Regions from separate parts of the Homo sapiens genome. Here all the other regions are linked to region 3. The links come from fine-mapping of genetic effects on gene expression. A gene starts in region 3. Each other region holds a variant in brackets. All regions are shown on one strand. Distances are between the middles of the regions. Region 1 overlaps TTC7A (tetratricopeptide repeat domain 7A). Region 2 overlaps STPG4 (sperm-tail PG-rich repeat containing 4). Region 3 holds the start of MCFD2 (multiple coagulation factor deficiency 2, ER cargo receptor complex subunit).

Region 1 (8,000 bases), 38 kb after region 3:
TGGTGCCGTATCTGGTGGCACGGTGGCCCAAGGGCACGGAGTCCTGCCAGTGCACAGAGGAAAGGGGGCAACAAGGCGGGGACCAGCTGGGGGACGGGGCCAGCATCCTGAGGGGTGTGTTTCCCTCTTTAGGCTCTGACTTCAAACCCCACCCCTGGCTTTACAGAGGCAAAGCAGGTTAGAAGCAGGGAGCAACTTTCCCCAAGGCCCACAGCTCTGGAATGTGGCTCTGACTGACTGGATCTATGGGGATGTTCAAAAATAATTTTGATGTACGTTGCCAAATTACCCTAGAGGTTCTACCAACTTATAGTCTGCCAGCAATGAATGATAGTTTGAACCAGGTACTTTTTTGACCATTTCCTTAAAATGTTAATTTTAAAAGTCATGAGGTACATAGCAAAGGATCCCATAACAGGTGCCTTCAGAACGAAACCCCCCTGCGATGGTGTTCTTGGGATTCTGGGCTTTAGAACCGTTCTCTGTGGGGAATCTCCCTTACGGTGAGAGATTCTTCTTCAGAGGCATGAAGTTTTTTGTGTTTTTCTAAAGACGAGGTCTCCCTATGTTGCCCAGGCTGGTCTTGAACTCCTGGGCTTGAGCAATTCTTCCACCTCAGCCTCCCAAGAAGCTGGGACTACAGGCTTGCACTACTGTGCCCAGCTAAGGCATGCAGTTTTGGACTAGTGGCTATGAGATGTTAGCAGACTGTGGTATCCTGAGAGTGAGGAGGCAATGGCAGCCCTGTAGATCTGAGAACACTGTACTGGTAGCAAAAAGAGCACTTTGAAAAAGATGGCACCAAGCAGGCATTCCTAGGGATGTTTTTGGATTGGCACTTAACTCTCGATCCTGATGGCTTCGCTGTGGGGTAGTTGAGAGGATCCAATTCACTCAACAGGTATTTACTCAGTGCTTATATTGAATGGTGGGCCTGCTCCTCACCCCAGTTGCTGGGAGGGGCAATGAGCACAGCCACCCAAGAACCATGGTGAAACCATCTTGACCTCAGACCCTGCACACTGAACACCCGGCTCCCATGCTCGAGCCACCTCTGCTGTAGGTAGCAGGAATCTGGTGGTCACAAGACGAGTTTTCAGTGTGGTAAAGGGAGGCAGCAAATAAACCAAGCAGTATATTATCTTTATTTTTATTTTTTGAGACAGAATCTCACTTTGTTGCCCAGGCTGGAGTGCAGTGGTGTGATCTCGGCTCACTGCAACCTCCGTCTCCCGAATTCAGGCAGTTCTGCCTCAGCTTCCCGAGTAGCTGGGATTACAGGTGCCCATCATCATGCCTGGCTAATTTTTGCATTTTTAGTGGAGACAGAGTTTTGCCATGTTGGCCAGGCTGGTCTCAAACTCCTGACCTCAAGTGATCTGCCTGCCTTGGGCTCCCAAAGTGCTGGGATTACAGGTGTGAGCCACTGCGCTCACTAAACCAAGCAGTATAAAACCACCTACCAGGTGGTGAGGGATGCAAATGAGCTACCCTCATTTGCGGGTATACCCTATATGTGAGAGAACTCCAGAAAATGCAGGTATTCAACATGTTCGAGGATTTGCCTTGGCAACAAGTAGATCTGCTTCCCACCTAACTCTACTGTGGCTGCTAGGTTATCCTGAGTCATGTCAAATTACCTTAAAAACTGGATGGTATGGTGGCTGATGCCTGTAATCCCAGCACTTTGGGAGGCTGAGTCAGGAGGGTCACTTGAGCCTGGGAGTGCCATGATCATGCCAGTGCACTCCAGCTAGGGTGGCAGAGTGAGACTCTGTTTAAAACAAACAAACAAACAAAAACACTTAAAAATGGGGAAAACCAATTATGGTTACATAGAAATTAGGAGCATGTAAAAGTACATTATTAAACCACTTCATGTATTTTTTCTCTTCAATCATTTGGGGAGAATTCTTCTTGGTTTAAGAACTTATTATCCACAGCACAGCATATGTATGACTTTGTCCCTTATTTTAAATTCTGAAATTCTGGGAATTTGTCCCCGAGTCCTGGGAACTCTGTCTTCCCAACCATTAAACTACAGCAGAAAATAAATCCAAGGGGCAATTTGTATTGTGACCATAGTAGAATGCCTGTGTCTTTTCTTTAAAGGCTGTTGAAATTTATGAAAAATGTGCCTTTATTTTCTCAGACCTGAGCCATTCATGTACTGGGTATGGGTGGTTGGGTGGGTCCAGGAGTGTGCAACTCCCTCCATTATCCGCCTTGTTCGGGGTTTGCTGCTCTGACCCCTACTTTGCTTTTCAGATGACTTTGGGAAATTGCTGCTGGCTGAGGCCCTCCTGGAGCAGTGTTTGAAGGAGAACCATGCCAAAATAAAAGACTCCATGCCTTTGCTGGAGAAGAATGAGCCGAAGATGAGCGAAGCCAAAAATTATCTAAGCAGTATCCTTAACCATGGGAGGCTCTCGGTAAGTCGTCAGCCTTCAAGCCTGAGACCTCCTCTCCTCGTCTGTCTTGCCTCGCATCTGTCCAGTCCTCCCTGAGTCATTTGGTCACCTGAGCAACAAGTCTCTCTTACAAGCTGCCCTTGCACTTACAGTAGCCACTGGCTGCACATGGCCCCTTGAGCACTTGGAGTATGGCTAGTCCACATTGAGATGTGCTGTAAGTATAAAGCATACACAAGGTTTCAAAGACTTAGTACAAAACAAAGAATAGAAAAGAGCAGTAACTTTTTATGTTGATTACATGTTCAGATGGTATATTTTGGATATATTGGGTTAAATAAAACATGTTATTAAAATTAATTTCACCTTTTACCTTTTTCAGTGTGACTAAAAAAAATCTTAGTAGAAATTTTTAAATTACACATGTGGTTCACATTTGTGGCTTACATCATATTTTTTTGGACAGTGCTTGGTTGACTTAATATGTGCCTGGCCCTTTGGGCTCCTTGGGTCAGGGGGCTCTCAGGAAAATAAAACCTCAGTGAACCTGTGACCTAGTTAGAAACAGGCAAACATGCAGAGTTGGCTAGGGACAGAAGAGCTCCATAACAGGGCAAGCCCATTTAAGTCCACGTGTATTTATCAAGCACCTACTGAGTACAAGACACTGAGGGAGGTAGAGGACCCACCTCTCCCTCCCAGAAGGAGTATGGTCACAACTTTCTCTGGACTTTGCTGCTCAAAATGTGGTCCACCCACCAGCAGTGTAGGCATCATTGGGGAGCTGGTTAGAAATGCAATTAAGAGAAAAAAAAAAAGAAATGCAATTAAGAATTAGAATCTGTGTTTTAACAAGCTCTCCTGGGTGATTCATATGTGCATCCAAGTTTGAGGCTGTGGCTGTGTTAGATTACAATGTATCCTGAACTATAATAGTGGCATGGGTATGTCATTAGAAACTCAAAAGAGGAGGGGGAGGGGGTAAAAAAAAACTCAAAGAGGAAGTGATCCCTCCCTCCCTCCCTTCCTTCCTTGCTTCCTTCCCCTCTGTCTCTCTCTTTCTTTCTGTCTTTCTGTCTGTCTTTATTTTCTTCAGGGTCTCGCTGTGTTACTCAGGCTGGTCTCCAACTCCTGGGCTCAAGCGATCCTCCTACTTCAGCCTCCCGAAGCGTTGGGATTACAGGAGTGAGGCACTGCGCCCAGCTGATTTTTAAAGAGCTATTCCAAAGTAATATATTCACTTCCTTAAACCTTTTATTCCAACGTACTGTGTGCAAGGCATTGTGTTGTGCACTCTGAAGGCAATCAAGACGAATCCAGCATGGACCCTGCCCTCAAGGAGGTTGCAGGTCTCTTGGGAAGATAAGTCCTATCAGCAAGTAAATAGCCTTCCTCCAAGGTAGACCGTGATAGGAGTGCTATCCACGAGGAAGCAAGTCTGAGGGGGATGCTCTTTGGGGATAAGCAGAGAGCAGACTCTGAGTAATGGCAGTACTAGAATTGGATCCTTCTGGGGCTGGATCTAGACAAGGTTGTAAAGGTACTTTGGGGCTAGTAAGGGCAGACTGGAACACCAGGCCAGGATGTGCAGGGCTTATTTTGTAAGGGAGGGAAAGGCCAGGGGAGAGGGGAGTGTGTACTAGAAGTTTAAGGTTACTGCTTTTAGGCTCCTTGACAGGTATTGTAGCACTGGGAGGTTTGTATTGGGTTAAAATAGCTGCCTGACCCTGAGCATGCTTGACCCCACAGACCTTCCAGTTTCTCATCTGCTGGTCAAAAGGGTTGGACCAGATTGGTGGGGTTCAAGCTTTTCCCACCAAGACCGCTTTTCGTTTTAAAAATATTAAATTAATAATTAAATGTTAAATTAAATATTTAAAAATTGTTTTTAAAATAAACATGATTCAGCCTTATTGTAAAAATTCCAGTCAACAAATAAGTAATTTGAGTGATAAATAAAAGTCCCAGCTGGCCTATGGCTCACGCCTGTAGTCTTAGCACTTTGGGAGGCTAAGGTGGGAGGATTGCTTGAGCCAGAAGTTTGAGATCAGACTGGGCAACATGGTGAGACCCCATCTCTACAGAAAATTTTTTTAATTAGCTAGGCGTGGTGGCTTGCACCTGTGGTCCCAGCTACCCAAGAAGCTGCGGCTGGAGGGTCACTTGAGCCTAGGAGGTTGGGGCTGCAGTGAGTTGTGTTCATGCCACTGCACTCCAGCCTGGGTGACAGAGCAAGATCCTGTCTCACACACACAAAAAAAGTTCTTGTTTTCCAACCTCACCCTCATGCCCACACCCATCCTCAGAGTTGAGCACTGGTCAGTATTTGATGTGCATCTCCTATGCCTTTCTTTGTGCATTTACAAACATATATACACACAGAT[A/T]TTTCTTTTCATAGAGTTGTAAGATATATATTTTTCACCAAGAAGTTTTATTTAGAGCTTTCTCCATGCCAGTATTGTCTCATTCTTTGTATTGGCTGAATAGTAACCACATGTATTGTGACAACGGTTTTATTAAATACAAATTGTACCATATTTTGTTAAACAAAGACATATATAGGCACCAATAATGTGCAGAAATTTACTGTTATCCAGGCCAGAGCCAAAAACTTAATGATGATCTGTAAAATAATATATTAAATGTCGTTTGTGGGATTCTTTTTTGAGACAGGGTCTCACTCTGTCACCCAGGCTGGAGTGCAGTGGCGTGAACATGGCTCACTGCAGACTGGACCTCCTGGGCTCAAGTGATCATCCTGCTTCAGCCTCCTGAGTAGCTGGGACTATAGGCATGCACCACCACACCCAGCTAATTTTTAAATTTTTTTGTAGAGACAAAGTCTTGTCATATTGCTCAGGCTGGTCTTAAACTCCTGGGATCAAGCAGTCCTGTCACCTGTGCCTCCCAAAGTGCTAGGATTACAGGCGTGAGCCACCATGCCCGGCCATCATTTGTAGTATTTTCTATCTCACCCGCAAAGATCAGGTCACAGTTGGCGTGACCTTTCTTGGCAGCTGATGCAGTCTCAGGTGGATTCCTGTGCATCCAAGTAGCTCTGCTGGATGAGAAGGAGAGCTGGGAGAGGTGGGTCCTGAGGCCCCTCCTTGGGAAAGCTTGAAACCCTTTCCTCTTGGTTATCTCTCTAAGACCCCGTCCAGCTCAGTTGTGTGGAGATCAGTGAAAACAAGCCACTTGTCCTAAACTCTGTTCTGCTACTAGGTTGAGGCTTTGCACCATCGCATGCAGGCCTCCAAGGAACCTTCTGCAACGGTATTTACTATTAGCCCCATTTCTTTTTCTTTCTTTCTTTCTTTTTTTTTTTTTTCAATTTTTTGTAGAGACACAGTTCTTACTGTGTTTCTCAGGCTGGTCTCAGATTCTGGGTTTCAAGCGATCCTCTTGCCTTGGTCTCCCAAAGTGCTGGGATTACAGGTGTGAGCCACTGTGCCCTGCCAAGCTCCATCTCTTGAGACCCAAGAAAGGTGATCACAACCCAGGCCTTTAGTGTCTACAGCCCATGCTCTAATGCTGTCTCTCATTTCTTGGTACTGCCTCCCAGAGTACTGGGGTGGAAATAAAATAATGACTGGGAAAGTTGGATTCATGTGAAAGATGGTGATCACACCCCCACTTTTATAGTTCCCACGTTAGTCTGTGAAGTATTTCCTCATCCGTTCTTTCCTCATACCTGGATATCTCCATGAAGTCCTTTTTCCCCTTTTATTGACAGGGACAGTGAGGCACAAAAGGAGTAGGTGATGCGCTGATCCACACAGTAGAGGGGATTGTTCCTCTGGTAAAGCGACCTCCCCCGTGGCACCCTCCCACTGGGCAAGGGGTTCCGTTCCCTGACTGTTGTACTGATAGACCAAGAATATTTCACATTCAAATGCATGGGCCCCACAGAGTGCAGTGGACTCTTAATGTTGCCAAGTAAGGACATTAAGAAGCAAAAAATAGCAGCAAAATGATACCATCTTCTGCTCTTACTGTGCTATAACAGAAAAACAGTTTAGCATTGAAAGGGCAAGGTAGATATCCTTTCAGAACTAAGAGCCTTTTTTTTTTTTTTTTTTTTGAGACAACGGAGTCTCGCTCTGTCACCCAGGCTGGAGTACAGTGGCACGATCTTGGCTCACTGCAACCTCCGCCTCCCGGGTTCAAGCGATTCTTCTGCCTCAGCCTCCCAAGTAGCTAGGATTACAGGCGCCCACCACCACGCCCGGATAATTTTTGTATTTTTAGTAGAGACGGGTTTTACCATGTTGTCCAGGCTGGTCTCAAATTCCTGATCTTAGGTGATCTGCCTGCCTCGACCTCCCAAAGTGCTGGGATTACAGGCGTGAGCCACCGTACCCGGCCGAGCATTTTTTTAAATAGTGTAAATGTGGCTTTATAAAACATGCCCTGCATTGTCTAATTTTTCCCCAGCTTGGTGGAAGCTCTGTTGTAAACTGCCACTGGTCCTCCAGGAACCGCCACTAGCCACACCCCATCAGCATGCCTGAAATGTCCTTCTCTGCCTCACTGCCCTTGTCTCCATGTGCAGGATAATGATAAATACGCATACCCTGTATTTATCTTGCTCTTTTCCAAAGAAAAGTTCAAAGCTCTTTTCTGGACTTTGCCCTATTAATGCCTTCAGCATCGCTGTGATAGGCAGTGAGGAGTAGGTGTTATTATCTCTCCCTCACCCACGAGGAAGACGCAGCCCGAGCAGGGAGGAAATGAGCCCGTGGCTTGAGACCAGTGCAGGGAACGCAGAGTCACTGCCCAGCTTGGAAGGACTGTGGGCCACATACCTCTGGGATGTGTCATCTGTGGCCCTGGCCCAGGGAGTGGATGGCCTATCTGGGAAGACTAGCAAATCCCCTCAAAAGATTCAGCTTTGGAGAGTTAATTAATAGAGAGAGCAGGTCAGGCGTGCAGAGGCTGAATGGGCCCATTGGTAGAGGCATTGGAGGAGTTCAGCTGAAGGGAGCTCCCTGGTAGTCAAGGAGGCTTTCAGGAGAAGGTGGGCCTGAGCAAGGCCCCAAAGGATAGAAGAGGACCTGGTTAGGCCAGGGGGAAGGGGACCTGAGGAAGCACAGGCAAAAGAGGAATGTGGATTTACAAAGGCCAGAAGGACCAGTTGGGAAGGTGAATTTGGCTTCCCCAGAGCCTGTCTGTGCCACGCTTCATTTCTCTTGGCTTCTGAGAGGGCAGTAGATGGTAAGGAGTGCTGGAGGCTTGCCCTGGGGTCACAGGGACCCCAGACTCTTACCTCCCTACAGGGAGACAGGGGTAGCACCTTCCTGCCAGTGACAAATGCCAGGTGTGGGATGAGAGCTGCATCTTCGGGGAGTTTTATGGACAGATTGGTGCCTGTGTGGCGGGAGCAGTGCCCAGGGCCTGGCCCATAGGCATTGTGAGCCAGCTGAGGACAGGATCAGAGGCAGGGGGCCAGAGCAAATGGCCTGCAGAGGCGGGAGGTTACAAGGAGAACTGGGGCCATGTCCAAGGTCAGAACTCACGTGCCAGGGTGGCACAGCCCAGGGCCAGCACAGCCTCCCTCAGGCAACAGCACAGGATCCCAAGCCACAGTAG
Region 2 (10,787 bases), 210 kb after region 3:
ATGAAGTGAGAATCTAACACCTTTTCCAAGTTATTTAATAATAAGTTACCTAACATATCTTTTCCTTTCCCTACTGACTTGTCATACCATCTTTATCAAATATAAAAATCTTGTATTAATAAAAAAATCTTGTATTAATATATTCTAGGATCTGTTTCTGAGCTCTGTTCAGTTTTCTCAATTTTTTTTTTTGCAGATGTTTGCTATGCGGTCTTTTTTGATCCTGAGTTTGTAACTACAAATAAATTATAGTGCATCAAACTATCCCAAAACAATTTTATATTTTATTTCTGTTTTTTGTTTGTTTGTCTGTTTGTTTTGTTTTTGTTTTTGTTTTTGAGTCTGAGTCTCACTCTATTGCCCAGGCTGGAGAGCAGTGGTGTGATCTTGGCTCACTGCAACCTCCGCCTCCCGGATTCAAGCCATTCTCCTGCCTCAGCCTCCTGAGTAGCTGGGATTACAGGCGCATGCCACCACGCCCAGCTAATTTTTGTATTTTTAGTAGAGACGGGGTTTCACCATGTTGGCCAGGTTGGTCTCAAACTCCTGACCTCAAATGATGCGCCTGCCTCAGCCTTCCAAAGTGCTGGGATTACAGGCGTGAGCCACTGTGCCCAGCCAATTTTATATTTTCTTATTCTTTCAGATGATTTATATAATTATTTATTTTTTTGACATCCTACTGACTAGCTATTTATCTAAAAGAGTTCATTTTTTATCATAACTCATGGTCATGCATTTGGAAATATTTAGAAATAGAAAAGCATTTTCATATCTTTAAAAGGAAAGAAACAGAGAGGTGCTTCCTTTTTGTTAATACCATGATCTATTGAATATCTCTAGCGATTTAATTAATTAATTCACCAAATACTATGTGCCAGTCACTTGCCTAGGTGCTAGGTATACAGGAAAGAAATCCCTGCCTTCATAAGCTTACGTTCTAGTGAGGGGGAAAGATAAAAACAGAGTAGATACATTTTAAAAGGTATTGTGTCTGACAGTTATGAATGCTATGAAGTAAAAAATAAACCAAGGAAGGGGACAGCAAATTTGAATAGGTGACTTGGGAAGACCTTCCTGAGAAAGTGGTATTTCAGTCAAGACCTAAAGAAAGTAAAGGAGCCGAACATTTTCTTCTACACTTTGCCACAAATTGGTTACTCATTTCTCGTATATCTTCAGATATACTTTATGTATATCTTAAATCAATTGCATTAGTCATTCAGAGCTTATCTACTATGATGAGCAAAATGTTAATCTTACTATAGCAAAAGGATTCATAGTATATTTTATTTTGAAAAATGTTTATGGCCACATAGTAGGTATATATATTTATGGAGTACATGAGATATTTTGATACAAGCATACAATGTGTAATAGTAACAGCAGGATAAATGGGGTATCCATCACCTCAAGCATTTATCATTTCTTTATGTTACAAACATGCCAATTATACTCTTATTTTTATTTTATTTATTTATTTATTTATTTTTTTGAGATGGAGTCTCACTCTGTTGCCCATTCTGGTGTGCAGTGGCGCGATCTCAGCTCACTGCAACCTCTGCCTCCCAGGTTCTAGCAATTCTCCTGCCTCAGCCTCCTGAGTAGCTGGGATTACAGGCGCATGCCACCACAGCTGGCTGATTTTTGTATTTTCAGTAGAGGTGGGGCTTCACCATGTTGGCCAGGCTGGTAGGCTGGTCTTGAACTCCTGACCTCAAATGATCCGCCTGCCTCCCAAAGTGCTGGGATTACAGGTGTGAGCCACCGTGCCCAGCCAATTTTTAAATGTACAATAAATTATTGTTGACTATAATCACCTGTTGTGCTATCAAATACTAGATCTTATCATTCTATCTAACTATATCTTTGTATCCATTAACCATCTCCACTTCCCCTTTCTCCATCCTCCACTACCCTTCTTAGTCTCTGGTATCCATCCTTCTACTCTCTATCTGCATGAGTTTGATTGTTTTATTAATAATTTTTAGCTCCTACAAATACATGAGAACATGCAAAGTTTGCCTTTCCGTGCATGGCTTATTTCACTTAACATAATGACCTCCAGTTCTGTTCATGTTATTGCAAATAGGAGGACCTCATTATTTCTTATGGCTGTGTAGTACTTTGTTGTGTATATGTACCACATTTTCTTTATCCATTCATCTGCTAATGTACACTAAGGTTGCTTCCAAATCTTGGTTATTGTGAACAGTGTGCTGCAACAAACACCAGATACCTCTTCAATATACTGATTTCTTTTCTTTTGGGTATATACCCAGCAGTGAGATTGCTGGATCATATGGTAGCTCTATGTTTACTTTCTTGAGGAACCTTTGTACTGTTCTTCGTGGTGGCTGTACTAATTTACATTCTCACCAACAGTGTACAAGGGTTCCCTTTTCTCCACATCCTCGCCAGCATTCACTATTGCCTGTATTTTGGATATAAGTCATTTAAACTGGGATGCAATGATATCTCATTGTAGTTTTGATTTGCATTTCTCTGATGATTAACGATGTTGAGCACCGTTTTATACACCTGTTGGCCATTTGTATGTCTTCTTTTGAGAAATGTCTATTCAGATCTTTTGCCTATTTTTTAAACAAATTATTAGATTTTTTTCCTATTGAGGTTGGGCATGGTGGCTCATGCCTGTAATTCCAGCACTTTGGGAGGCCAAGGTGGGCAGATCGCTTGAGCTCAGGAGTTCAAGACCAGCCTGGGCAACATGGCAAGAGCCCATTTCTACAAAAAAATACAAAAATTTGCTGGATGTGGTGGCATGCACCTGTAATCCCAGCTACTTGAGGGGCTGAGGGGAAGGATTGCTTACACTAGGGAGGTCGAGGCTGCAGTGAGCTGTGTTTGCATCACTGCACTTCAGCCTGGGTGAAAAAGCAAGACGCTGTCTCAAAAAAAAAGACCTTTTTCCTATTGAGTTGTTTGAGCTCTTTATATATTCTGGTTATTAATCCTTTGTCAGACGGATAGTTTGCAAATATTGTCCCCCATTATGTGGGTCGTCTCTTCACTTTGTTGATTGTTTCCTTTGTTGTGCAGAAACTTTTTAACTTGATGTGATCCCATTTACACATTTTTGCTTTGGTTGCCTGTGCTTGTGGGGTGTCACTCAAGAAATCTTTGCCCAGACCAATGTCCTGGAGTTTCCTCAATGTTTTGTTTTGATAATTTCATAGTTTGAGGTCTTAGATTTAATTTTTTTTTTTTTAACTAGAGACAGGGTCTCCCTATATTGCCCAGGCTGGTCTCGAATTCCTGGGCTCAAGGGATCCTCCTGCCTTGGCCTCCCAAAGTGCTAGGATTACAGACGTGAGCCACCATACCCAGCCAGATTTAAGTCTTTAATCCATTTTGATTTGATTTTTGTAAAATGGCAAGAGATAGGGTTCTAGTTTCATTCATCTTCATATGGATATCCAGTTTTCCTTGCACCATTTATTGAAGAGACTGTCCTTTCCCCAATGTGTATTCTTGGCACCTGTGTCAAAAATGAGTTCACTGTAGATATATGGATTTATTTCTGGGTTATCTATTCTGTTCCATTGGTCTCTATGTCTGTTTTTATGCTACTACCATACTGTTTTTGCTACAATAGCTCTGTAGTATAATTTGAAGTCAGGTAATATGATTCTTTCAGTTTTGTTCATTTTGCTCAGGATGACTTTGGCTATTCTGGGTCTTTTGTGGTTCCACGTTAAGTTTTAGGGTTCTTTCTTCTTTCTTTCCTTCCTCTTCTTTCTCTTCTTTCTCCTCTTCCTCCTCTTCCTCTTCTTCTTTCTTCTTTCTTCTTTCTCTCCTTCTCCTTCTTCTTCTTCAGACAGGGTCTTGTTCTGTTGCCCAGGCTGGACTGCAGTGGCACACACATGGCTCACTGCAGCCTTGACCTCCTGGGCTCGAGTGATCCTCCCACCTTAGCCTCGCTGAGTAACTGGGACCACAGGTGCATGCCATCATGCCCAGGTAATTTTTAAATTTTTTGTAGAGATGGAGTCTCTCTATGTTGCCTAGGCTGGTCTTGAACTGCTGGACTCAAGCAATCCTCCTGCCTCAGCCTCCCAAAGTGCTGAGATTATAGGCATGAGCCACTGCACCTGGCCTCAGATGATTTCTTGTTGCTCATTAATGTCCTTTCCTTTCAGAATTTGAAGAACTCCTTTTAGCGTTTCTTGTAGGACAGGTCTGGTGTTGAAATGCCTTAGCTTTGGTTGTCTGGGAAAGTATTTATCCTTCACATTTTAAGGATTTTTTACTGAATATACTATTCCAGGATAAGTTTTTTTCTTTCG[G/A]CACTTTAAATATGTCATGCCACTCACTCCTGGTCTATAAGGTTTCCACTGAGAAGTCTGCTGTCAGATGTATTGGTGCTCCATTGTATGTTATTTACTTCTTTCCTCTTGTGCTTTAGGATCCTTTCTTTGTGCTTGATTTTTGGGAGTTTGATTATTAATGTCTTGAGGTGGTCTTATTTGGGTTAAATATGCTTAGTGTTCTATAACCTTCTTGTACTTCAATATTTCTATTTTTCTCTAGGTTTGGAACGGTCCCTGTTATTATCCCTTTGAATAAACTTTCTACTTCAATCTCTCTCTCTATCTCTTTAAGGCCAATAACTCTTAGATTTGCCGTTTTGAGGCTATTTTATAGATTTTGTAAGCATGCTTCATTCTTTTTTCTTTTGTCTCCTTTGACTGTATTTTCAAATAGCTTGTCTTCAAGCTAATTCTTTTTTTTTTTTTTTTTTTTTTTTTTTTTTTTTTGAGACAGAGTCTTACTCTGTTGCCCAGGCTGGAGCGCAGCAGCACAATCTTGGCTCACTGCAAGCTCCGCCTCCCAGGTTCAAGCGATTCTCATGCCTCAGCCTCTCAAGTAGCAGGGATTACAGGTGTGCACCACCACACTCAGATGCTTTTTGTATTTTTAGTAGAGACAAGCTTTTGCCATGTTGGCCAGACTGGTCTTGAAGTCTTGGCCTCAAGCCGTCTGCCTGCCTCAGCCTCCCAAAGTGCTGGGATTACAGGCATGAGCCACTGCACCCCATCCAAGCTCACAAATTCTTTCTTCTGTTTGATCAGTTCTGCTATTGGGAGACTCTGATGTATTCTTCAGCATGTCAATTGAATTTTTCAGCTCCAGAGTATCTGCTTGATTTTTTAAAATTATTTTGATTTGTTTGCTAAATTTATCTGATAGAATTCTGAATTCATTCTCTGTGTCATCTTAAATTTTGTTGCACTTTGTCAAAACAGCTATTTTGAGGTGTCTGTCTGAAAGGTCACATATCTGTGTCACTCTGGGATTGATCACTCGTGCTTTATTTAATTCGATTGGTGAGGTTGTGTTTTACTAGATGGTCTTGATACCTGTATATGTTTGCCGATGTCTGGGCATTGTAGAGTTAGGTGTTTATTGTAGTCTTTGCAGCTGGTCTTGTTTGTACCTGTCCTTCTTGGGAAGGCTCTCCAAGTATTCAAAGGGAATTAAGTGCTGTAATCTGTCTTTGGTCACCGTAGCTGTGTCTGCATTAGAGGGCACCCCAAGCCTAGTAATTGCTGTGATTCTGGTAGACTTGTAGAGGTAATGCCTTGGTAGTCTTGGATAAGATCTGAGCGAGTTCCCTGGATTACCAGGCAGAGACTCTGGTTCTCTTCCCTTCCCTTCCCCCAAACAAACGAAGTCTCTCTTTGTGCTGAGATGCCTAAAGCTGAGGGACGGGTGACACAAGCACCTCTATGGCCAATATCCCTGGGACTGCACTGGGTCAGAGCCAGCATGGTACTGGGTCTCACCCAAGGGCTGCAGTAACTACCGCCTAGCTACTGCCCATGTTCACTCAAGGCCCAAAGGCTCTTCCCTTCAAGGCAGCATGCTGCCCCCTGGGCCAAGTGCAGATCAGAAATACCATCTGGGAGCCAGGGCCTGGAGTCAGGAAACTTAGGAATTTATTGGGTACTCTATACTACTGCAGCTAAGCTGGCACCCAAGCCAGAAGACAAAGTTTTTCCACTCGTCCCTCCCCTCTCCTCAAGCAGAAAGAATCTCTCTATGCCACTCAGGCCTGTAGCAAGTACTGCCTGGATACCACTAATGTTCACTCAAGGCTCTTCAGTCAGCTTGTGAGGAAGGCTGCCAGGCCTGGGTCTCTCCCTTCAGGGCAGTGGGCTCCCCTCTGGCCCAGTGGGAGTCCAGAAATGACATCCAGGAGCCAATGCCTGGAATTGGGAACCCCAGGAGCCTGCTTGGTGCTCCACTTCACTGTGGCCGAACTGGTACCCAAGCTGCAAGACAAAATCCCCTTTACTCCTCCCTCTCCTTTCCTCAAGCAGGAGTCTCTCTCTGTGACCACTGTAGCTGGGAAAGTGCTGGATCACACCTGAAGCAGCACAGCACTGGCTAAGGCCTGCAGTGAGTGTTGTCTGGCCACTGCTGGTGTTTATTCGAAGCCCAAGGGCTCTTTAGTCAGTAGGTGATGAATCTTGCCAGAACTGGGTCCTTCTCTTTAAGGCAGTGGATTCTCTTCCAGCCAGAGATGTGTCTAGAAATGTTGTCTGGGAGCTAGGGCCTGGTATGGGGGCCTCAGGACTCTGCCTGAGGTGCCCTATTCTGCTGTGGCTGAGCTGGTATCCAGATTCAAGACAAGTCCTCTTTACTCTCCCCTCTCCTCCTCTCAAGCAAAAGGAAGGCCTCTCTCTTGAAGCTGCAAGCTGTGCTGCCTGGGGCTGGGGGATGGCTGCTACAAGCACTCCTTTGGCTGCCCCAGCTGGTGTCTCACTAGGTCTTGTGTACCCTAAGTCCACTGCCTCTGAGCCCAGCAGAGCACCTGAACTTGCCCAGGAACTGCAGTCCTTGTGGCCGAGACTGCCTTTCAAGCTTATTTAGGACCTCAGAGCACTTCAGCCCACAGTGGTAGGGAGAGCTGGAACTCAGTATCGAACGGCTGGGATGGGCAATTCCTGGCTGGCTAGTGCTGGTCTAAATGCTCCCTCCATGGGCACTAGCTGAATTCTGTCCTGTGTTGCTTTCCCTGTTACAGGCAGCACGGTGTTCCCGTGCAAAGTCCCCCCGTCACGGCATTCCCTCTTCCCCAAGGGCAGATTCTCTCTTCATGCCACGTGGCTGCTGCCAGGGGATGGGGGAGGGTAGTGTCAGTAATTCAAGACTGTCTTTTCTACCCTACCCTCTTCAGTGCCTCTTTCCTTGATACAATGTTAAAACCTGGTATTGCGATCCCACACTTGCTTTTTGGTTCTTACAGAGGTGTTTTCTTGTGTGGATAATTGTGTGGATAATGGTGTTCCTGCTAGGGGGAACGATCACTGGAGGGTTCTATGTGGCCACCTTGCTCCACTCCAGAAAGCACAGCGTATTTTAAACATCAAATTCATCATGAGTTAACTGTCTACATTATACTTACGGGAATAAAATAGGTTGTTGGGAATCTTTGAACTGTTGAGCGAAATACACAGCTCCTATATTTCAAAATAAAAAAGAAAAGTGATTTTCTAAATCTATTTTTTAAAGATCTTTGTTAACTTATTCCCTACCTTTCATTAAATATTTTAAAATGTTAATTTGCATATGAGGTGCATAAATGAGGTTTAAAAGCCAGGAGTATTGGCGTGTAGGTATGTAAACAGAAAGGCAGCTTATTTAATAAGTATATAATTACCTGGAAGCATATTTGGGAACTGGTGCAGGAAGCACGTTGTATTGCCCCGGAGAAAGCTGAAGTGACTGCACAGAATGGACAAGGACACCAATAGATTAATAGAGGTTGTAAACTCACTTCGTTATCTGTCATTCGTAATCTTTTATTTTATGACCATACAACATTGGATAATTCCTTCTTTACTTTAATAGTGGAAAAGGAAAATGTACATTTCCAAAGGTGGAGCTTCAAAACATTTAACATAGATTCGGTCTTCATGGTGAATTTTATAGACAGCATACCTGAGATGCTGCATAGGAAAATGTCAAATTGATCACAGTTTTTCTTTTTATTTTTTTGAGATGGAGTCTCGCTCTGTCGCCCAGGCTGGAGTGCAGTGGCGTGATTTCCGCTCGCTGCAGCCTCCGCCTCCCCAGTTCAAGCAATTCTCTGCCTCACCCTCCCGAGTAGCTGGGATTAGAGGTGCACACCACCACGCCCAGCTAATTTTTGTATTTTTAGTAGAGACAGGGTTTCACCATGTTGGCCAGGCTGGTCTTGAACTCCTGGCCTCAAGTGATCCACCTGCCTCAGCCTCCCAAAGTACTGGGATTACAGGCATGAACTACCGTGCCCAGCCACATTTTTTTTTCTTTTTTTGAGATAGGTTCTCTGTTATCCAGGCTGGAGAATGATATGGCATGAACATAATTCACTGCAGCTTCAAACTCTTGGGCTCAAGTGCTCCTCCCACCTCCACATCCCAAGTAGCTGAGACTTCAGGTGTGTGCCACTGCACCCAGCTACTTTTTTATTTTTTGTAGAGACAGGATCTCACTATGTTGCCCGGGCTGGTCTTGAACTCCTGGGCTCAAGCAATCCTCCTGCCTCAGCCTCCCAAAGTGCTGGGATTACAGGTGTGAGCCACTGTACCTGACCTGATCACATCTTATTTTTATTTATTTATTTAGGGACAAAGTCTCACTCTGTTGCCCACGGTGGAGTGCAGTGGCGTGATCACAGCTCACTGAAGCCTCGACATCCCAGGCTCAAGTGATCCTCCCACCTCAGTCTCCCAAATAGCTGGGACCACAGATGCGCACCACCATACCTGGCTAATTTTCTTGGTCTTAATAGAGACAAACTCTCACTATGTTGCCCAAGCTGGTCTCAAACACCTGAGCTCAAGCAATCCACCCAGTTTGGCCTCCCAAAGTGCTGGGATTACAGATGTGAGTCACTATGTCCAGCCGTGATCACACTTTAAATATTCTAGATTCAACAAATCAATTCAGCCATTTAGTGAGCCTGCTCTGGGGTAAAGCGCAGCACTAGTACTAGGGAATACAGTGGTTAAGAGAGCTACGGTCCCTGACCAGCAGGAGTGAGAGGCACCTACAGAAACAATCCTAACATAAACCACTGTCATCAGTGCTAAAAGACAGATTGAAGATATGGGGGTAGGAAGAGATTAAATCCAACTGGGTGACCTCAAGATGACAAAGATGATGAGATTTGAGGGAGGCTTTTAAGAAAGGCAGGACTTCCTCAAGGAGCTCAAGCAAGGGTCTTCCAAGAAAGAGAGGCCTCACATCTAACACTATTTCCATCAGGAAATTGTTGCAAACAACCCGGGTGGCTCCATTGCCCCTGGGTCTAGGGACATTAGCCCACAGTTATGATATAAGAATGTCAGGAACTGGTTAAAATAGACAGGAGAGGCTTAATGCCTGTAATCCCAACACTTCGGGAAGCCGAGGCATGTGGATTGCTTGAGGTCAGAAGTTCAAGACCAGCCTGACCAACATGGCAAAACCCTGTCTCTACTAAACATACAATGATTAGCCAGGCGTGGTGGTGGGCACCTGTAATCCCAGCTACTTGGGAAGCTGAGGCACGAGAATCACTTGAACCTGGGAGGCGGGGGTTGCAGTGAGCCAAGATCGTGCCACTGGACTCCAGCCTGGGAAACAGAGCGAGACTCACTCTGAAAAAAAAAAAAAAATAGGAAGATATGTGAAGGAAGGTAGGGAAAGAAGGAAGGAGAATGAGAAGCCAGGAGGAGAAGATCATCCAGACATCCAGAGCTGGCAGGGAGGAGGGGAAGAGTTATATTATAAAATCCTAGGACCTGAAGTGAATAATCCCCTCCACTCCCTATTATTTTTATGTCAGATTTTAAGAAACAATACCGCTTTTGTTAAAAAGGCATCTACCTCCCAGCACTCGCTGGCACATGGAAGTTCACTACTATATTTCACCCTGCAGCTGTCTTTCCCATATTAGTACACAACTTTGATTGCAGAAGCAGCTTTTTGTGGATAGAGTGATGATAACAGTCAATACAAATTTAATGGTGAAATATATGCATTTTCCTGATGCACCTGTGCTGCTTGAGTGCTCACTTGACATCATAAACACCAAGGAAACAAAGGTATTCTTGTGTCATTCTTGTGTCTTATAGAAGCACAGAAACACAATTTGAACTGGGCATTCCTGGGGGCCAGCAATGTCCTATTTCCTGATTCTGATGACAATTACGTGGATGTTTGCTTTCTGTTTTTAAAATGTGCATATTTGCTTTATGCTTCTTTCTCTCTCTCTCTCGCACATACACAGATATAAACAGGAGACAAAAAAAGAAAACTGAAAAGGGGAAAAAACCTCTTAAAGCAGTCATTTATTTATCTATACTGAGCAATCCATGTAAGATTTCCATAATGAAGTGCTCATGGAAAAACTATTAGCATTACTCTGGAAAGGAATATTGGTTACCTGTAACATCTATATTTGTCCTACTATACTTGGCATTTACCATTCTTTGCTACTTAACGTAATTGAAAGGGGGCTTTTTTTTCATAAAGTGTTGAATAGTCAGCTGCTTTATGTAGGAGACTGTTTTCCTGTTCATTGCTAAACTTGGTTCCATTTTCCTTGGGTCTAATGGTATATATATGTGCATATATATATTTCTAACTCCAACATATGCTTCTCAGTTCTTTTTTTTTTTTGAGACAGGGCCTTGCTCTGTCACCCAGGCTGGAATGCAGTGGCGCAACCATAGCTCACTGCGCTTCAACCTCCCAGGCTCAAGCGATCCTCCTGCCTCAGCCTTCTG
Region 3 (9,513 bases):
CAAGCGGGAAAGAAACTACAAGTAGTTCAGCTGGGCTGCAGCCTAGAGGGTAGGAAGCAGACAGGACAGAGGTGGCTCCAAGGCCTAGACAGGCTGTACTGGACAGGGCTTTGCACACTAGGCCAGGGCTTGACATCTCCTGCAGAGAAAGACAGGAGAGTCACTTACAATTCATGAATGGGAGGTGAGATCAGAGCTTGGTTTCAGAATGACTCATCTGGCAGCACAGTGGGGAAGGCATGAAGTGGCAAAAGCAAGACTAGAGGCAGGAGCATGGTAGCCAAGGGAGTGGTAAGGCGGGTCAGATCAAGGTCTGCGGCAGCGGACAAGGTTCTGTACCTCCTGGGTGGTAACAGTGGCAAGTAACTACAGTGAGCGGGCACTGGAAAGAAAAGTTACAGAGAAATCAGGATGCCATCAGGAACTCCCAGGGTTTGGCCACACTTGGAATTGTGGTCAATAAGATGACAGTCAGCTACAGAGCAAGCTCTTGGAGGGCAGGGAGAACTTTAACCCCACCAGTATTACCCGCCAAGGGTCAGGCAGGCCTTTAATAATTGTTGATTCAATGGAAAGTCTTGGTCTGTCCTAGGGCTGACAGACTGACCTCAAAAAGGAAGGTGAAGGACAGCCAGGTGACCTACATACAAAAACAAAAGACCTGACCGAACACTCACTTCCCAACAGGCAAAACAGATTCTGCTAGATAACAAGGCCAGGGATTTCTAACAGGTCAATTGTAGTCCACAGCCCCAAACCAGCAGTGGTAAAGACAAACCATAAGGCACTGGTCATCCCCTTTACATGCTACACACAGGGCTCAGCTCAGAAGCTGTAGCTGTCTTTGTGCCTGGGGCTGAGAGGTAGAGGTGTTATAGTCCCTCTTACCCATCCTAAAAGGCTCTCAGGGCAGAACCCTGAAAGTGTGAGTATGCCACCCTACAACACTTAGAAAAATTTCCCAAATCCGTTTTTCCCATTACCAGTATTGCTTCCCATGGCCCCCTCCTTAAAGGGGACAATAGTCACTGGGATGTCTAACTTCCAGGATAGGCCAGGCATGGTGGTTCATACCTGTAATCCCAGCACTTTGGGAGGCTGAGGCAGGAGGATCACTTGAGGCCAGGAGTTTGAGATCAGCCTAGACAACACAGTCAGACCCCCATCTCTACAAAAAATAAAAAATTAGCTGAGCGTAGCAGTGCACCCCTATAGTCCCAGCCACTCAGGAGGCTGAGATAGGAAGATTGCTTGAGCCCAGGAGTTCAAGGCTGAAGTACACTCCAGCCTGGGTAACAGAGTGAGACCCTGTCCTCCACCACCAAAAAAAGGAAGAAACTTCCAGGGTGCTAAAAAGCACCTAGAATCTAGTCTACTTCTAAACAGTGACATCAAAATGCAATCTGTCTCAGACCTTTTATTTTTTAATTTTTATTTTTTTGAGACAGAGTCTTGTTCTTTCGCCAGGCTGGAGTGCAGTGGCGCAATCTTGGCTCACTGCAACCTCCGCTTCCCAGGTTCAAGCAATTCTCCTGCCTCAGCCTCCCGAGTAGCTGGGATTACAGGTGCATGTCACCACGTCCAGCTAATTTTTGTGTTTTTAGTAGAGACAGGGTTTCACCATCTTGGCCAGGCTGATCTCGAACTCCAGACCTCAGGTGATCCACCCGCCTCGGCCTCCCAAAGTGCTGGGGTTACAGGCATGAGCCACCGTGCCCGGCCACCTCAGACCTTTTATATCTGTAGTTTAAAAAAAAAAAAAAGCAATATGTCATACTTAATAGGAAAGAATGCTCAATATATATTGAATGAAAAAGAACAGGCTGCAAAAAAGCAATAAAGAATAATACACTTTTGTAAAATAAAAATGTGTATTTCCTACACAAACTAATAACAAAGATTATCTTGAGACATGAGATTAGAATTGTGATTTTCAGCCGGCATGGTGGCTCGTGCCTGTAATCCCAGCACTTTGGGAGGCCGAGGCGGGCAGATCACGAGGTCAGGAGATCGAGACCACCCTGGCTAACACGGTGAAATCCCGTTTCTACTAAAAATACAAAAATAAAAATTAGCCAGGCGTGGTGGCGGGCACCTGTAGTCCCAGCTACTTGGGAGGCTGCGGCAGGAGAATGGCATGAACCCGGAGGTGGAGCCTGCAGTGAGCCGAGATCTGCTACCATTTTTTATGAATATGTATTCAATGTAATCTATCCCATAATTTTGTCCCAATACTATATGGATCGGATACAAAAGGAGTTTCCGGTTAATTCTTATCTCCACAAAATAATTCAGAAACAGTCAGAAACTACACTTCCAATTTTACCAAATAAAAGTGCCCAGACCTTGGCCAGGGACAGTGGCTCACATCTATGATCCCAACACTTCGGGAGGCCGAGGCAAGTGGATCACTTGAGGTCAGGAGTTTGAGACCAGCCTGGCCAATGTGGCAAAATGCGTCTCTACTAAAAATACAAAAAAAAATTTGCTGGGCATGGTGGCGTGCACCTGTAATCCCAGCTATTTGGGAGGCTGAGGCACAAGAATTGCTTGAACCCGGGAGGCAGAGATTGCAGTGAGCCAAGATCACACCACTGCACTCCAGCCTGGGCAAGAGAGTGAGACTGTCTCAAAAAAATTTTTTAAACGTGTCCAGACCCTGACAAGGCCACTGCCACTGTACCTGGTACCACAAAACAAGGTTTCAGGTTACTCCTAGCAGTGACTGCCTAGGCCATAGCAGAACAACTTGTTCTGACCACACATCTTAGAGTTCTGGGACAGGAAGGATCAGAGAAGGGAATCAAGCTCCTCCCAAGCCTTTCAGACTCATTTACATCAAATGTCTCTTTCTCCAGTGAGGTCTTTTCAATTCCAAGTCTGGTGTAGGTATTCGTCCTGCAGGCTCCCAAGTGCTTCCCTTCAGAAGGCTCCCGTCCACAGCTGATGACAGCTGCAAATTAATTCTTTTTTTTCTTTTGTTTTCTTGTGTGTGAATGAATTCTTGAAAAACTGCCTGATTACTTGTCAGTGCCCCTTGCTGGATGGGCTTTAAGAGGACTTGGACTGAATCCACATTCCCAGTATCAGGCACAGTGCCTGGAACAGAAGCTGCTGGTTCTTAGCCTGTGTGCCATGGTCCTTGGGGAGCTGGGGGGATTACCACCTTTGCAGATATGCTGCCAATTTTTAATGTCACTGTAACTGAAGATGAAACTTTTCTTTTGGAGATATCTATCATGGAACTCATGGCACCATTTCCTCCAACTATGTGATTGGATGCTTAGTATATCAATTTGGTGTGTGTGTGTTGGGGGTGGGGGAAATTCTATTTAGATAACACCAAAAAGCAACCAAGTGATTAATCATGTAGTAACTATGAGTCCAAAATATCCCTTCTTTAAGGGAGGTGGGATAAAGGCCAAGAATCACTGATTTTGAACTTGTCTCATTTTGGTTTGCTGTTGCAGGTTTCTAATCATTGGAATGCAACAAAAGCCAAATCGATAAACATAAAGAAAAAAAATTCCTCCAAGTGGTACACTGAAAACAGGGAATCGGGCTGGGCATGGTGGCTTATGCCTGTAATCTCAATACTTTGAGAGGCTGAGGCAAGTGAATCACTTGAGCCCAGGAGTTCAAGACCAGCCTGGACAACATGGTGAGACTCCCTCTCTAATTAGAAAAAGAGAGAGAGAGAGAGGAAGAAAGGAAAGAAGGCAGGCGAGGGAGGGAAAGATAGAAAACAGGGAATCTAACTGCCACCTAACAAATTAAACTGCTGACAGTCAAGAGAAAGCATAAGCAACTCCCTCTACCCAAATAACAGGTTGCATCATCCATGCTCTAACTACTTAGCTCAAGGCCATGGGCTAACAGCCTGAAGATAAGCCCCAGCTCACTGGCCTTCTTTAGGAAATTATAAAGGCCAGGCTGAAGAAAAACCCAACGGAGGAGAAATTTCTGCAAAGGGACTTCAGGGCACAACCCATACCTTGAGACAGCCCTCACAAGGCGCAGCCTCAGTCCTGGGAGGGCAGTGCTGGACCATCAGGAGCAGTGCGCCTCCCAGTGCCTTGGCTGTCACAGTGCTCCCCTCCTGCTCTGCCAGCCTCTTCCTGTACCACAGCCTCCGCTCCTACTGGTTCCATCTGTCCATCTCCAACTTCCTTCCAGGACAGGTTCAAATGTCACCTCAGGATTCTTCCAGCCAAGACCAATTGCTCTCTCATCCGACCTCAGTCTGTAGCCTCTCACACTCATTTGACCTGAACATACGATCACAGGTTGTTCTCCTTTTCCATTTTTCTCTTTTCCTCCCTCTCTGAGAGTCAGGACCCTCTCTCCTCTGGCTCTCATTTACCTTACTGATCTCTGCTGAGCTGACCTGGCTCATCGCTGAATCAGGGAAGTGAGTCTTGGCACCTAGGTGTATTGTTCCCTATCCCACAGCGGATCTAGCCTAAGCTGGAACTTCCTTTGGAGGCTTCCAGTGGTTTGACCTGGCCCAACCCTTTCTTCCTGGTGTGTCATCAGTCCTATCAGCACTAAGTTTGGGGCCAGCCTTCCTGCCAGCAGCTAGTAGCAGCTTCTCCCTCAAGGGGCCCTTGGTTAAGAATTCAAACCCAAAGCAGCCAAACTCACCAACATCCAGACATCCTGTACCCACAGCCAATGCCAAAGAAAAACTGACCAGTACTTTGTCACTTACCCCTGTCATGGTCCTGGAATGAAGGCAAGAAAATAACCAACTTCCTAAGCTAAAGAAACCTCTACACGGACTGAGGGTTGAGAATTGGTTCTGAAAAAGCAGGCATTTAATATTAATAACTTGATCTATTTGTTCATCTAGGGAGCCCAAGGAGCACCCATGCTGCATTTATACATTTAATGACCGTACTAACAGCACAAGGTACTGAAGATAGTACTATGACCTCGACAAACTCCTCTCACACAGATTACAACCTGGTAGAAAAGAGAGACCGGCAGGCAGACACCCATGGGGTACCACGAAATCCCCAACTGACACCTGAAATAACACATAAAGGATAAGAAGGATTATTTCAACCAAAGGACAGTGCCTCAGACATAGCGAACATACTGAAGGAACATGTAAGCCCAGAAGGAACTTGTTCTGATCTAAGAACCAAAAAAGATTCAGTATGGTTGAAGACACAGTACAGTCGAGACAAATGAATCTAAAGTTAAAGGAAGACAGGTCATGAAGGGCTTTGCAAGCCCCGTTCAAGAGCTTGGAAGAGCAATGAGAATCCACCAAAGGGTGATAAGGGAATGGGGGGACGCTTCTGGTCACATGATCAGATTTCTGTTTTAAGACCATGGCTGTAGCCTCTCTGTATAGAACAAACTACAGAGGATGAAGAAGAGATGCAGGGATCATCAGGAAGACACCGAGGTAGTCCAGAGAAGAAAAGGTGGCCTGAACTAGGTAGGGCAGGGGGATGGGACTGGAGAATGAACGTATCCAAGACAACTTTGCAAGGGATTCGATGTGGGTGGGTAAAGGAGTGAAGCAAGTGAGAATGATGCCCAATTCTGGCTTGGGCACCCGGGTGGATGGCCATGCCCAGAGAGGGAATACAACAGGAGATCAGCTTCCCCCGCCGGGCCCGACAGGACCTGTGGTCTCCCCGAGAGAGGGAACAAGGAGCAGAGGGAGAGTAAGGCTTCCGGCCCGCTGCTTTTGGGCCGGGCCAGGAGCAGTGTCCACCCGACACAGCTGGTCCCACAGGCCGATCCTCGGGCCCCTAGGGACCAGGGAAGGGGGCGGAGATCTGCCCAGTCGGCCCCGTCTGGCTCCAGAGCCCCCGGTGGGGCACAGGCTTCCGCCCCGGGAGACAGGCCGTGCTCCTAGCCGGTTAAGCGTCCCGAGACGGCCTGGGGGCCCAGCCCGCGCCCCCAGACTACTCCTGCCTCTCATCTTGAGCCCAAGCCTCCAGCCCACAGGAGAGGCGCCGGGATCCCGCCCGCTGCGGAGAGTGCGCTAGTTCACTCACCCTTACGGTCTCCGAAGCAGACGCGAAGCCCTCCAACGTGAGCCTCACCAGCCCCCGTCCCCAAAACGCTCTTCCTCGGCTTCGCCCCGCCCCCCCCCCCCCCCCGACCTGCCCTGCGCACGCGCGCTCCCTGCCGCCCGCCCATTGGCGCCGCCGGGCCCCTCCCGCTGGCGGCGGCGGGCTGTGAGGACGGCTCGCGTGAGTCCACGTGTAATCGGCCCGGGCCCAGCACTGGCGGGACTGACGCAGTTCTTCTACCTGCTTTCCCAAGGGCGACACTCGGCTCCACTCCAGTTGGGCCGCTGGACGCCCTAGGGGCCCGGCAGTTGCTAGGCAACGCCGGAAGCCCTCAGGAACGTAGTTCCACGGGCGACGTAGGATGGCGGATCCGGATGGGGCGGACCCCAAAGCTGGCTCCCAACTCCGCTCACCCCCTCCTATACAGGGCTCTTGGTTCAGGTCTCTTGGTTCGTCCTGCTGCAAGTTGGGAAGAAAGATAATAGGAATGCTAATTCCTTCTTGATGAAACGACCACAACACGCTGGAGCCGGCCTTGGACCCTACGTTTCAAGATTGGCCTGCTTCCAGCGTCTGCCAGCTCCACTGCACAAGCTGCGGCAGCCGCTGTCCCCGTTCGCTTCCACGGGAGTCCCAGCAAGACTATGCGACCCAGTTCAAATACCATCTTCCATGTACCGTTCGTGAAATCAGCAGCTTTTGACATTCAAGAGAGGACAGATTACTTAAAAACAGACTCATGAACAAATAGGGAAACGAATACATCATCCCTGTATCGAATTCATCCCTGTATAATCCTGCCCTTACACCTGTGCTCCTATACAAGATTAACATTCAGTAAGTATCCATTGACCTGATGGATAAATGAGTGTAGGACGGTCGTTTTGTTTTTTTGTTTTGTTTTGTTTTGTTTTGAGACGGAGTCTCGCTCTGTCCCAGGCTGGAGTGCAGTGGTGGGATCTCGGCTCACTGCAACCTCCGCCTCCCAGGTTCAAGCTCTTCTCCTACCTCAGCCTCCCGAGTAGCTGGGATTACAGGCGCGTGCCACCTTGCCCGGCTAATTTTTGTATTTTTAGTAGAGACGGGGTTTCACCGTGTTGGCCAGGCTGGTCTCTAACTGCTGACCTCTTGATCCTCCCGCCTCAGCCTCCCAAAGTGCTGGGATTACAGGCGTGAGCCACCACTCCCGGCAGGACGGTCGTTTTTTTTAAAGCCCTTCTCCCATTTCTGTCCATAAAGGTACATAATCGTTTTTCAAATGAGCCTGGGTCCGGACAGGAAAGACAAAGAAAGTGGCTAAGTAGTTAGATGCCTTGAAAGTTGCCTAACGCCACTGCCATTGACGGTCTCATTCCTTTTCCCACCTTCATCTGAGATTGAAATCTGCCACCCCATCCCAGAGAAAAATCCCATAATCCCTAATTTTTTTTTCTTTTTTTAAAGAAAAGAGTCTCCATGGTGCCCAGCTCGTCTCGAACTCCTGGGTTCAAGCAATCCTCCCACCACCTCCGCCTCCCAAAGTGCTGGGATTACAGGGGTGAGCCACCGCGCCGGGACAAAGAATCCCTAAGTTTTGAGGAAACCCTATTAATTCAAGACCCATTCTTCTTTCCTTACTCTGAACTTTGGATTAGTTTGATCTAGTTCCTCCTTCTACCCTGCATCTGCCATTCATCCATCTCTTCATCCATTCATCCACCCCTCCCTTTGTTCATTTATTCATTCAATAACATTTCTTGAATATCTTCTATGTACTAGGCGCTCTACTAGGAGCTACTAGAGATACAAATAAGACAAATGAAGTGTCAAGAAGCTGGTGTCTGGTAGATGGATAAAGTGTCCTCATTCTAGCCAGTGCTTTCATTTTTTTCCTATGGATGTTATCCTGTGTTATGTCTCTCTTGAATCTACAGTCACTCCCTCTCTACCAGATAATTCCCATCAACATATAAACTTGCTGTATTTTCTCCCCCACCATACCACTGAAACTGCAATCTCCATGCAAATCTAGTGGTCTCTTTGATCTCTTGTTTTTATTTTACTTGCCCTCTCAACACTGTTTTATCAAAGCCAACCACTCTCACTTAGAAACACTTTCTTCTCTTGTTTTCTGACACCACACACTCTGGGTCCTTCTGCTACCTCACTCATTATCCTTTCTTGGGCTTCTTAATTGGCTTCTCAATCTATAATTATCAAAGTGTCCAGGGTTCTGTTCTGAGTCACCTTCTCTATCCACCCTCCCTATGTGAGTTTACCTAGTCCTGTGCTTTAGATACCATTTATAAATAGATGACTCCAAAATATGTCTCTCTGACAATGACCTCTCTGTGTAATTCCTGGCTCCTGTAAATAACTGCCTACTTGATGTCTCCATATGAATGTCAGACTGGCATCTCAAACTTAATGTGTCCCCCCAAAATCTTGATTTTCACCCCCAAACCTGCACCTCTCTCAGTCTTGTGCATTTTAGTAAATGTCACTGGTACTCATTCTGTTGTTCAAGCTAAAATTCTACGAGCTGTTTTTGATTTATCTCATCCCTTTACCTTTAAATCCTTCAGCAAAGCCTGTTGATGCTATCAAAATGTATCCTGAGTCTTTGACTTCTTTCCACCTCCACTAAACCATCTAGTCCAGTAGTAGATGATGCTGCTGGACTACTTGAGAGAGAGCTTCCTAACTGACCGTCCTGCTTCCATTCTTGCCCTACTGTAGTCCATAAGTGAGAAGCCACCTTTGATTAAGCCATTTTATAGGTGGGTGTTCTGTAACTTGTAGCTGAACCCATTCCTAACAGGCAAATAATTTGGTACCAGAAGCAGGATGCTAAAAACAAGACACTAAAATATGGAATTGGCTAACTGGAGGTTAAGGTAGCCAGTGTTAAAAGACTGTATGTCAAACTGGAAAGTTGGTGACCCTTATAAGCCGTAGTGAAACTGTCACTTGCTGGACCTTGGATATAGGCCACATGCCAACCAATGCTATATTTTTGGAGAAATCTCACGAGCAATATGGAACATTAGTGAGTGTTGCCTTTTTTAGTAGCTTTCAGCAGACTCCTTCAAGAGAAGGGCAACTCTACGTTGGAAATAACTGATTTGAAAGCAGAGATTAAAGAAAGTAACGACTAGGTAAGAGAGGATCTCTTTACCTGCAACCAGGAGTCTCATAACTTGGAACCTTGCTGAAATACCCCATTTACTTTGTGTACTCAGGTTGAAACTAGTACAAGTAGAGACAGAGAGGTGGCTTTATCAGGAGATAGGACGGCCATCCCAAGATACCAGAATGGCCTCTAGGTGGCATCTCTTTCCTCAGCTGTTTTGAATTGTCTCAAGACAATGTTTTACCTATGTAGGGGATTCCAGAGTGGATGAGAATAGGGGTGAAAATAAGATTTCAATTTACACCTTTTAGTATTGCTTTGATGTTGTAAACTACATATTACTTATTTGGAAAAATAAATAGAAAA

The links. PIP is the estimated chance that this variant, and not a neighbour inherited with it, causes the effect.
Region 1: its variant is fine-mapped to the expression of MCFD2 in whole blood (INTERVAL, PIP above 0.99).
Region 2: its variant is fine-mapped to the expression of MCFD2 in whole blood (TOPMed, PIP above 0.99).

What each region holds. Positions count from the first base shown.
Region 1 is chr2:46,948,095-46,956,094 of GRCh38, forward strand. It overlaps TTC7A (tetratricopeptide repeat domain 7A), which reads left to right. Exons shown (of 20, transcript NM_020458.4): 2 at 2,269-2,432. Among named protein-coding and RNA genes, the nearest start is that of TTC7A, 11 kb to the left of the region's middle. RefSeq lists a silencer at 7,036-7,330. The variant A/T (reference allele first, on the strand shown) is at 4,796.
Region 2 is chr2:47,122,506-47,133,292 of GRCh38, forward strand. It overlaps STPG4 (sperm-tail PG-rich repeat containing 4), which reads right to left. Exons shown (of 7, transcript NM_001163561.2): 4 at 7,691-7,755; 5 at 7,436-7,490. Among named protein-coding and RNA genes, the nearest start is that of STPG4, 27 kb to the right of the region's middle. The variant G/A (reference allele first, on the strand shown) is at 4,311.
Region 3 is chr2:46,909,706-46,919,218 of GRCh38, forward strand. MCFD2 (multiple coagulation factor deficiency 2, ER cargo receptor complex subunit) reads right to left here and starts at 6,101. Exons shown (of 4, transcript NM_139279.6): 1 at 6,018-6,101. It also overlaps a transcript of TTC7A not described here. RefSeq lists a silencer at 6,088-6,167 and an enhancer at 6,171-7,145.